2 linked regions of the Homo sapiens genome follow. The protein of the gene in region 1 purifies or fractionates together with the protein of each later gene. This does not show direct contact. Each region holds a gene or a part of one and is shown in the gene's direction. Other genes may lie near its edges.

Region 1 (6,091 bases):
GGCAGCCCTTCCTCCATACCTCGTTGCTGCCACTAAACTTGGGAGTGTCCTGGAGCCAGGGCCAGGCCCAGGCCTGGGTTTCTTGCCATACCCCCTGAGGGCACCAGGACAGGTCCCAGAAAGGGGCTGCGCCATGAGGGGGCCTGCAGTAGGTGCAGAGAGTAACAACCCAGCATGCGCAGAGCAAGGGCCTGTGGAGTGGGTCCCCAAGGGTAACTTGGTGCTGGCAGATGCTTAACAGCCGGCTGTGGGCGTGCGGGAGGCCTGATGTGTGTTGTCAGCCGATTGCTGTGGTGTCAGTATTCAATATTATCATGACTGAGTCAAGCTGCCCTCATGAGGTCACTGAGTAGGGAGTTGGAAAAGATGCAAAATCACACACGCCCTTGTCGTATCGTCTTTCCACCATGCACACACACACAATGCAGCTCAGCCACCAGGGCCCGGCAGGGCCAGGGTGGAGATGTGCACGGTGCATGTGGCTGTGTGTTGGGGGCAGGGGCGGGAGGTTCTGCGGCTGGACTAGAGATGAGGTTGGTGGGCGCAGTGGGTTGAGAGGGGGACGCACAGTTGCCAATCACAGCACTCTCGCTGTGTTTCCCTGTAAACACTCAGTCTTCCCCCTCTGTAGGTTCAAAGAACGCGTACTGCAGACCCCAAATGACCTTCTGGCTGCTGGCTTTGAGGAGCACAAGTTCAGAAACTTCTTCAATGCTGTGAGTTCACCTGGTCCCTCCTTCCACACTGGCAGAGCAGACAGGAGTGGGCACTGGCTGGAGCCCCTACACAGCCCACAGCTCTGCTCCTCCTGGCTGGGGAAGGACAGAGGGTTCCTTCCTGCTTGTGGGGGTGTGTGGGCACAGGGAGCCCTCACCCTATTCCCTCACCCTATTCCATCTCCACCTCATGCCTCCCTATCCAATTAGTGAAGGGGCGGGATCGAGGACTCTCAGACGCTTGCCACTCTGAGTGTGCACGTGAGAATCCAAACCCAGGTAGTCATGGTGGGGAGACCCAACTGCCGCTCCCAAACATGCCTCTGGACTAGTGTACAAACTGCAAAGTCTTGCTAACCCTGGGTTACTTAGCTTAGGCAGAATCTCAGACTGATTTTCTAACTCAACCTGAGAATCTACAAATGAAAATGCACGTGAGGGCTTCACGCGAAGGGAGGGAGCGGAGGGAGAATGCAGAGGGAGGGCTGGGGCTTGCTTGGCCTCCCTAGCTGAGGGCCGGGCGGGCGCAGTTTTACAGTGTGGTGGAACTGGTAGAGAAGGATGGCTCAGTGTCCAGCCTGCTGAAGGTGTTCAACGACCAGAGTGCCTCGGACCACATCGTGCAGTTCCTGCGCCTGCTCACGTCGGCCTTCATCAGGAACCGAGCAGACTTCTTCCGGCACTTCATTGATGAGGAGATGGACATCAAAGACTTCTGCACTCACGTAGGTGCTTGGGGTCTCAGCCCCAGCCCTGGGCTCTGCTCCTGTGGCCCTGTCCTGCAGACTTCAGCACCCATCCGTAGCCAAGGGACTCGGGTGTCACGACTGCCCTTGCAATTCAAACAGAGCTAGGTCAGCAAGCTGCAGACAGGTCCCACCTGAGCTGCCTGAGCTGTGTGGCCTGAGGCAAGTCACTTCCCCTCTCTGGAGATTTCCCATCTGAAAAATAAGGGATTTGGACTGGCCTGTTTACAAAACCACAGTCATAGTCCAAGAGTCACATTTGCTTGACGTGTTTATGATGCATGGTATTTACCAGAAAGAGTTGCCGATATTTAAAAATTAGGCACTTTTCATATGAATATTTGGATTTCTGCTGGAAAGTAAGAAGTACAGCCCCCAGGTCCTTGCTCTTGCAGGGCAGTCTCAGCAGGCACTAAGCAGCAGCTGCCCTCTCTATGTAGGACATACGCCTGCTTGCCACCGCCTCTGCTTCTTCCATCGTCTCTGCAGCACCCGGACTCGCACCCTCACTCACCAGCCTAGCCTCTGTAAACACTTAAGCTTGAAAGGCACCCCTGGATGACAGGGTGCCTTTTATCTCTAAGATTCTTTGATGCCCAACCTGAAAAATGTCTGCCCCCCGTTTCCAGATCCCTCTAAATTAGTAGCCTGCTGTCAGGTGTAACTACAAGGTCTAGAATGGAAAAGATTCAGGTTCGATTCTTGCAATTGTAGCGATTTCTAGCTATGCTGCCTCTCAATGAGGCTGTTTCCCGTGTGGCATGAGAACGTCCATACCCAACTCATGGGATGTTGTGAAGATGACGTCCCAGCACAGAGGCTGTGACCATGACCCTGAGAGCCAGAGCTGAACTCACTTGTCCTCTGCCAGGCCTCCCTCCTAAGCTGGCTTGTTTTCATTTTGGCCCCTGCAGGAAGTAGAGCCCATGGCCACGGAGTGTGACCACATCCAGATCACGGCGTTGTCGCAGGCCCTGAGCATTGCCCTGCAAGTGGAGTACGTGGACGAGATGGATACCGCCCTGAACCACCACGTGTTCCCTGAGGCCGCCACCCCTTCCGTTTACCTGCTCTATAAAACATCCCACTACAACATCCTTTATGCAGCCGATAAACATTGATTAATTTTAGGCCATGCAGTGGAACCTGTCACCTAATGGGACTGCATTCTGAATGGAACATTCCGGCTCTTCAATTTTTTAAGCAATTTAGACTGTAGCAAGAAAATGTGCAGCCTTTTGGGCAAAGCCCCTGGGAACGAGGCCTATCCACTATGGACTATGGTAACTTGGTAGGATTTTTAGTATTTATTTTAATGGAGGGACAAATGCTTTCTAACTGGGCCCCCGACTCCGCACCCCAGTTCGCAGTGAGGCCCTGGGTGGGTCACCTGCCCTCTCTGGACTTGTTTCTTCAACTGGAGGAGGTCCCTGCCTATGCTGACATTCCATTGTAGAAAAATGGGGCCTCTGGTGTCTCTTTACCAGGGGCAGTGCCTCTCTGCGGGGGAGGAAAAGCTCAAGGTTAGCTGTCTTAACCCAAGTGACTTACCAGGCCTACAAAAGAGTCCAGTCCAGTCACTTGTTGGACTGGGCTCTGACAGATGGCCTATTGAGGTCAACTTGAATGTGAGGGCTACGGTGTGGTTTCAAACATTCATGATGGATGTATTTTCCTACCCCTAACTTAAGGAGAAAAAAAAAAAGACTTCCTTTTTTTGCCAAAGTCCAGAAAGGGGCCTTTAGCCTTTAGTAGGAGCTCAAATTGTTGGGGCCCCTCTACCTCTCTCAGGGCTAGAACTGCCTGACTCTTGGTGGACGAGCCCTTCAGGGTTCTGCTTTCAGCCCCACCTGGACAGAGGCTTACAAGACTAGGGTCTGGACCAGAATCTGTGTATTTCTGTCTGGGACCAGGAAGCCGCAGCTGTCCCATCATCCCCAGCAAATCCTAGAAGTGGAGTCTGGATACTTCAAGGATAGAAGTGTTGGCACGCACAGCCATGGACCCAGCTGAGCAGAGCAGACGCTTTGCAGGCTGCCCCTGGCTTCTTCCTCCCTTTCCCGCTTCTGCTCTCTTTATGGACTGGTCAGAGGGTAGGTGGGAAAGAACAGACAAGCCATGGGAAGTTGGCAGTGGGGAGATTTCCACTGTGGAAACCGCCTGGGAATTCCGGCCAGCAGCTTCCTCCTTCAGCCACCTGGCCATACCCCTTAAATAAGCCCCTCACCTTGCTGCCTCAGGACCTTCAAGATTCCATCTGTGGGCTGGCCGGCAAGATGGCACCAGTGGGGACCCACACCCTGGCTGGGCAGAGGTGCTGCTAGCAACCTCTCTTCCTCTATAAGAGGAAATGGAAAATGCAGGGTGTGGAATTGCCCTTTGGGGTCCTTCCTTAATTGAAGGCCACCTTCTCACAGGTTTCATTCTGCAGGGATTTACTGGAATCTATTGGTGCTGCTGCATGAGTCTGCTGACAACCTGACTGCACAAGGACTGGGTAGCAGACTCCTCAGAGTCCTCTTGACACAAATGTCAGATTTGTGTCACTCTTCTGCCTTCGTGAAAAGCCAATAGCACTCTCAGATATCAGGGGATTTTAGTTCCAAGCAGGGACCCTGGTTTCCATACTGCCCTCAGCTGGAGTTTGGATCCAAAGGCTCTGGCTAAGTCATTATGTCACTTTTTCACAGGAATGTAAATTTGACTGTCACCTCTGAATTTGTTCAGTGTCCCACCATGGTCTATGAGAAGTACACTGGAAGCGTGGGGGGAACACATGACATGATTTGTGAATATCATCATCTTTGCCAGACAAGTCTCCAGGGGATCCCTGTTTCCCAACTGAAAGGTGTGAACGGACACACACACAGCCTGGATGACGCCTTGGCTGTTCTAAGGGGCTGTAAGGTGGGCTCTGGGCCTTCCAGCTAGGCTCTCAAGCACAGCAGAAGCCTCACTGGGCTGCTATGTCTCTGTATTTGTGGCTTGTGTGGTAGCCTCAGAAGCAGAGCTGTTTGGCAGACTGGCTGGAGAAATTCCCTCTAGGAGACTTGCCTGTGCTGTGCTTCCAGGTCACAGAGCCCCCCGGAAACTCACAGGGGCCCTCTTCCCAGAAAAGAATCTATTCTATCACTTCAGAATCAGGACACTCAAGCTCTGGCAGAGGAAGGCCAAGTTACTTTCATGGTCTTACCCTCTGCTTTTCCCCTTTTTGCAAAAAACCACTGGCCAAATCCGAACCATTGCCCTTGTTTCCCCCACGTTCTCTCTCAGATCTTTGTCTCGAAGGGAAAACATAGTGGATGAAAAGGTGTGGCAGGCTTTGGCACCTTGTTAAAATTTCTAGTCATCTGTGGATGTTACCTTGCTTGTCCACAGCAGCCAGTCACCCTGGCCAGTCCCACTTCCTGGATAATTCTCTACCCTCACCCCACAGAGCCATCTCTCTCCAGACCAAAAGCTGGAAGGAGAGTTGCTTTGAGAGCTTGTTTTTACAACTGCATGTTTATTATGATACTTTCTCTCCAAAGGAAACTTTTAAATCAATGGGAACAATTAGCAACAGAAAGAGCACAGTCCCTGCTTTTGACTGGGTTCCTATTTTAAGCACAAATGAGAGCTCTGGAGCCAGAATGCCAGGGTTCTAACTTCAGCATTCACTTACTAGCTGTATGATCTTGGCCAAGTCACTTCACCTCCCTGAGCCCCAATTCCCAAGTTTGTGAAATGGCAACAATACCTATGTGTCACTGGATTATTGGTTAAAACAGAATGAGATTCCTTGTGTGAAAATAGCTATTATACCTGACACACTCATCGTATGGGCTCTGCAAAGGGATATTCCCCAACCTGTCCTTCCTGACAGGAAGCATAGGGCACTGCAGATGGGGAAGCATGTCACCTTGGCAGTGACTCGGTGGCTTCCCAAGCAGGAGTGTCAGGGGAACCATGAGAGAGAGTCTAGGAGCAAACACATCACCACCCTGAGCAGATACAGGAGTGGGGAGGGGGCTGTAACTCAGTGAGTGGCTTCCAGGGGCCCCAGGCCCTGCTGGATGTGGGCCAAGCCCTACAGCTTCCCTAGGCAGTAAGTAAAAACATTCTCCTAGCATTAAAATGGTTTCCATAACTACTTTTGTCCTGGCTTCTTAATACTGGGTACCTGGCATGCAGCCAAGAACTCTGCTTTTCCGTGGTGCTTATGTATTAAGTAGATTAGCTGGGGAGGGATATTCCTTGTTTAATGGCAGATCCAGGACACTCCGGAAGCTCTGCCCACCAACTTCACCTTACCAGGCGAGAGTAGCACTGCTTGGAAGGCTGCTCCTGCCTTTTAAAGCCTGTCTACGTATTAGCTCCTCCACCAAGGAAAAGAATTTGCTGTTAGATGGCTAGGGCAGGACACGGACAGTCATCAGGGGATCTATGTTTGGCTTATGGCAAGTGGCTTCACTCCCACGGCTCAGGTGCCATTAGGGGATATTAAGCCCGCTTACTAACCCCACTGACCACCACTGCATCATTTGGAAAATGGAGAGTCTCCCTGCCATTCTCTGATAGCTGTCAGTCAGGAGCTGACCTCACAGACGGGCAATTTCCCCTCCTATTCCGGTCACTGGTGACACTGGG
Region 2 (3,489 bases), on another chromosome or scaffold:
AGATTGCGCCACTGCACTCCAGCCTGGGCGACAGAGCGAGACTCCATCTCAAAAAAAAAAAAAAAAAAAAACCTGCAGTCAGGGATATCTCCTGCTCCGGTCTGTGCGCTCTGTGCCCTCGAGCTCCCAGGTGATCTGAACAGGAAGCTGCACTGGCCCCTGTCTCTAGGTAAGGAGGATAGGACCCAAGCATTCCACAGGCCACACCCAGACAGTTGCCAGCCTCCCCATCTACAAAACCTCAGCCTGGAAGTTTGCGAGTCATTCATTCATTCAGGATTTATGAAGCATTTATCATGGACGTGCTGCTCTAGGCCAGCCGTTGGTGTCTGGTTAATCAGGATTCCTGGTAAGTGAGTTGGTATTTGGAGTATCTACTCAGAGGTGGACGTTCCAGCTTCCAGGAATCTAGGATATGACAGAGTACTTCAGGCTGGTGCCTCCAGATTAGCGGAGACCCTGGGCTCCAGCCACACTCTCTGTAGCAGCTTTCAGAGTCCTTTTCCTTTGTCCCTTCTCTGTCATCCTAGCGCTGAGAGAGCTGGGCAGGCCCAGGTTCTTAGCCCCATTCTAGGAATGCAGCAACCCAGGCTCAGAGAGCCTCAACAGCCTGCCCTAGGTGGCAGTACCCGGATTCCATCCCGTTTCCTGACTCAATTCCACTGCTGCCTCTGTGCTACCACAAATAGCAAGACTTGTCTTAGCTATGCCCGAGTGCTGGAGTGTGCAGCTGACTGCTGGGAAGAACCAGCTTGGACCCTTTGGAGAGGGGCTCTGTCCCTGCCCCTGTCTGCCCTCGGGACATATACCAGCTCACGTCTCTGCCCCACAGGCTTGCCCACAGGTGACGTTCCCATGGATGGCATGTCCGTGTCTGACCTGGGTCCTGTGGTGCTCAGCCTTTTGAAGATGCCAGAAAAATACGTCGGCCAGAACATCGGGCTGAGCACTTGCAGGCACACGGCCGAGGAGTACGCTGCCCTGCTCACCAAGCACACCCGCAAGGTCGTGCACGATGCCAAGGTGGGCCTCCCGCCCCAGGTGACTCAGGCATCCTTGTCAGGGCTTTCTAGCTCCCGTAGGGAGGGTGTGTCCAGGGCTGCCCACACCTCTGGGCAGTACATCTAAATTCATTCGTTCATCGTCAACGTTTATTTTCTGCTGTTCCAGGAGCTAACTGGCCACAGAGTGAAATTTCTGGCTTAGATGTTTTGACCAAATAGAGAGAAAAGCTTCCAGGAGGAGAGGGCCATAGGAGCCAAGGCAAGGAGGGGTGAAAATGCAGGCCCTGCCGGGCTCCTCTGTGGGAGGGAATTTGAAGAGAAAAGAGTCTGGAAAGATAGACCCGACCCCTCCCCTGTGGGAGGGGATTTAAAGGGAAAGAGGCTAGAAAGATAGGGCCGACCCCTGCCCCCATTGGCCTGGCTGGGTGGGCAGGAGGCCTACTGGACAGACTCTTGGGTACCTGGTTTCTAATGTTTGTCATTACCATTAGGAAAGTAAGACATACTCATTAAAGAATCTGGGAGGCTGGGTGCAGTAGCTCACGCCTGTAATCCCAGCACTTTGGGAGGCCGAGGCAGGTGGATCACCTGAGGTCAGGAGTTTGAGACCAGCCTGGCCAACAGGGTGAAACCCCATCTCTACTAAAAATAAACAAATTAGCCGGGTGTGGTGGCAGGCGCCTGTAATCCCAGCTACTTGGGAGGCTGAGGCAAGAGAATCGCTTGAACTCAGGAGGCAGAGTTTGCAGCGAGCCGAGATGCCACTGCACTCCAGACTGGGCGACAGAGCGAGACTCCAACTCCAAAAAAAAAAAAGAATCTGGGAAACACTGGAGTCCTTAAAAGACGAAAGTTGGGTCAGGCGCGGTAGCTCACACCTGTAATCCTAGCACTTTGGGAGGCTGAGGCGGGCAATTACAAGGTCAGGAAATCGAGACCATCCTGACTAACACGGTGAAACCCCGTCTCTACTAAAAATACAAAAAATTAGCCCGGCGTGGTGGGCCTAACTCCTGGGCTCAAGCGATCCTCCCACCTCCACCTCCCAAAGTGCTGGGATGACAGGTGTGAGCCACTGTGTCTGGTCAAGCTTTGGTTTTTGAGAAAGAAAGTGATGCAGGCAGGTCTCTGATTTGGAAGGGACTGAGATATTTTCGTCTCATGATCTGAAAATAATAGTCTTTTTATTTATTCATTTTTGAGACAGGGTCTCACTCTTGTTGCCCAGGCTGGAGTACAGTGGGGTGATCTCAGCTCACTGCAACCTCCACCTCCTGGTTTCAAGCGATTCTCCTGTCTCAGCCTCCTAAGTAGCTGGGATTACACGCACCTACCACCAGGCTGGCTAATTTTTGTATTTTTGAAAGAGACGGGGTTTTATCGTGTTGGCCACGCTGGTCTCGAACTCCTGGCCTCAAGAGATTTGCCTGCCTCAGCCTCCCAAAGTGCAGGGATTACGGGCATGAGCCACAGCATCTGGCCAAGAACAATCTTTAAACTGATCTACAATGTCAGGCAGCTCAGGAGAGCAGCAGTTTCTGAACTTTCGGCTCTTAGAAGTTTTCAAATGACCTTGTACGGAGGACCTGGGTCAGGGACCGAGACAATAGTGGCTCTGGGTGTAGCAGGTCGGGAGACCCCAGCCCATCCGGCCTCCCTGCCCCGCCACCTCCCGGGGCACTGGAGGACGCCGGCCACGACAGGCTCCTCTGCTTCCAGATGACTCCTGAGGACTACGAAAAGCTTGGCTTTCCCGGTGCCCGGGACCTGGCCAACATGTTCCGTTTCTATGCCCTGAGACCCGACCGTGACATCGAGCTGACCCTGAGACTCAACCCCAAGGCCCTGACGCTGGACCAGTGGCTGGAACAGCACAAAGGGGACTTCAACCTGCTGTGACCTGCCCGCCTCGCGGCCCCTTGTGGGGATCGGGGGCACCAGAGGGGCAGAGGCACCAACATCTGAATAAAGCCATTGTTCTCCCAGATGGCTTCCAGGAGAAGAGGACTCTGCTTCCAGGACTTGGGTTGGGGTGGTAGTTGTGTACCAACACAACAGTAAGTGGTTGGGGAGGGTCCGGGGCTGTACCAACACAGCAGTAAGTTGGAGCGGGGGGGGGGGGTCCAGGGCTGTACCAACACAGCAGTAAGTGAGGGGACCCGGGGTTGTACCAACACAGCAGTAAGGGGTGGCTCCAGGGCTGTACCAACACAGCAGTAAGGGAGGGTCCAAGGCTGAAGGGATCACTTGGTGACTGGGACGAGTGACCTAAACGTGTTTAGTCAGACAGGTGTGAAGTGGCCTGTTCTGACCTCAGCTAGCAGAACAGCTCTGACCAGCAGCCTCTGTTCCCACATTTGAAATTCATTCACAGACGGGGACATAGCACAGGACACAGAGGAGCCCCAGGAGCCGAGCTTCTGACACACCCCTTTCATCTCCAGAGCTAGTGAGGCCATCTGCACATGTGAACTGGAGACAGGCT

The links. Proteins that work in one complex are often made in the same cells at the same time.
Region 2: the proteins of OTUB2 (region 1) and NMRAL1 purify together in Homo sapiens (affinity purification with western blotting; 2 studies listed by BioGRID, with this or other methods). This does not show direct contact.

What each region holds. Positions count from the first base shown.
Region 1 is NC_000014.9:94,043,340-94,049,430, forward strand, and holds the end of OTUB2 (ubiquitin thioesterase OTUB2), read left to right. Parts: intron 1-631; coding exon 632-716; intron 717-1,246; coding exon 1,247-1,441; intron 1,442-2,376; coding exon 2,377-2,583; 3' UTR 2,584-5,591; downstream 5,592-6,091. UniProt on the Homo sapiens protein: Hydrolase that can remove conjugated ubiquitin from proteins in vitro and may therefore play an important regulatory role at the level of protein turnover by preventing degradation.
Region 2 is NC_000016.10:4,461,194-4,464,682, reverse strand, and holds the end of NMRAL1 (nmrA-like family domain-containing protein 1), read left to right. Parts: intron 1-832; coding exon 833-1,023; coding exon of another isoform or gene 1,024-1,041; intron 1,042-1,170; coding exon of another isoform or gene 1,171-1,206; exon of another isoform or gene 1,207-1,263; intron 1,264-2,723; coding exon 2,724-2,903; 3' UTR 2,904-2,989; downstream 2,990-3,489. UniProt on the Homo sapiens protein: Redox sensor protein. Undergoes restructuring and subcellular redistribution in response to changes in intracellular NADPH/NADP(+) levels.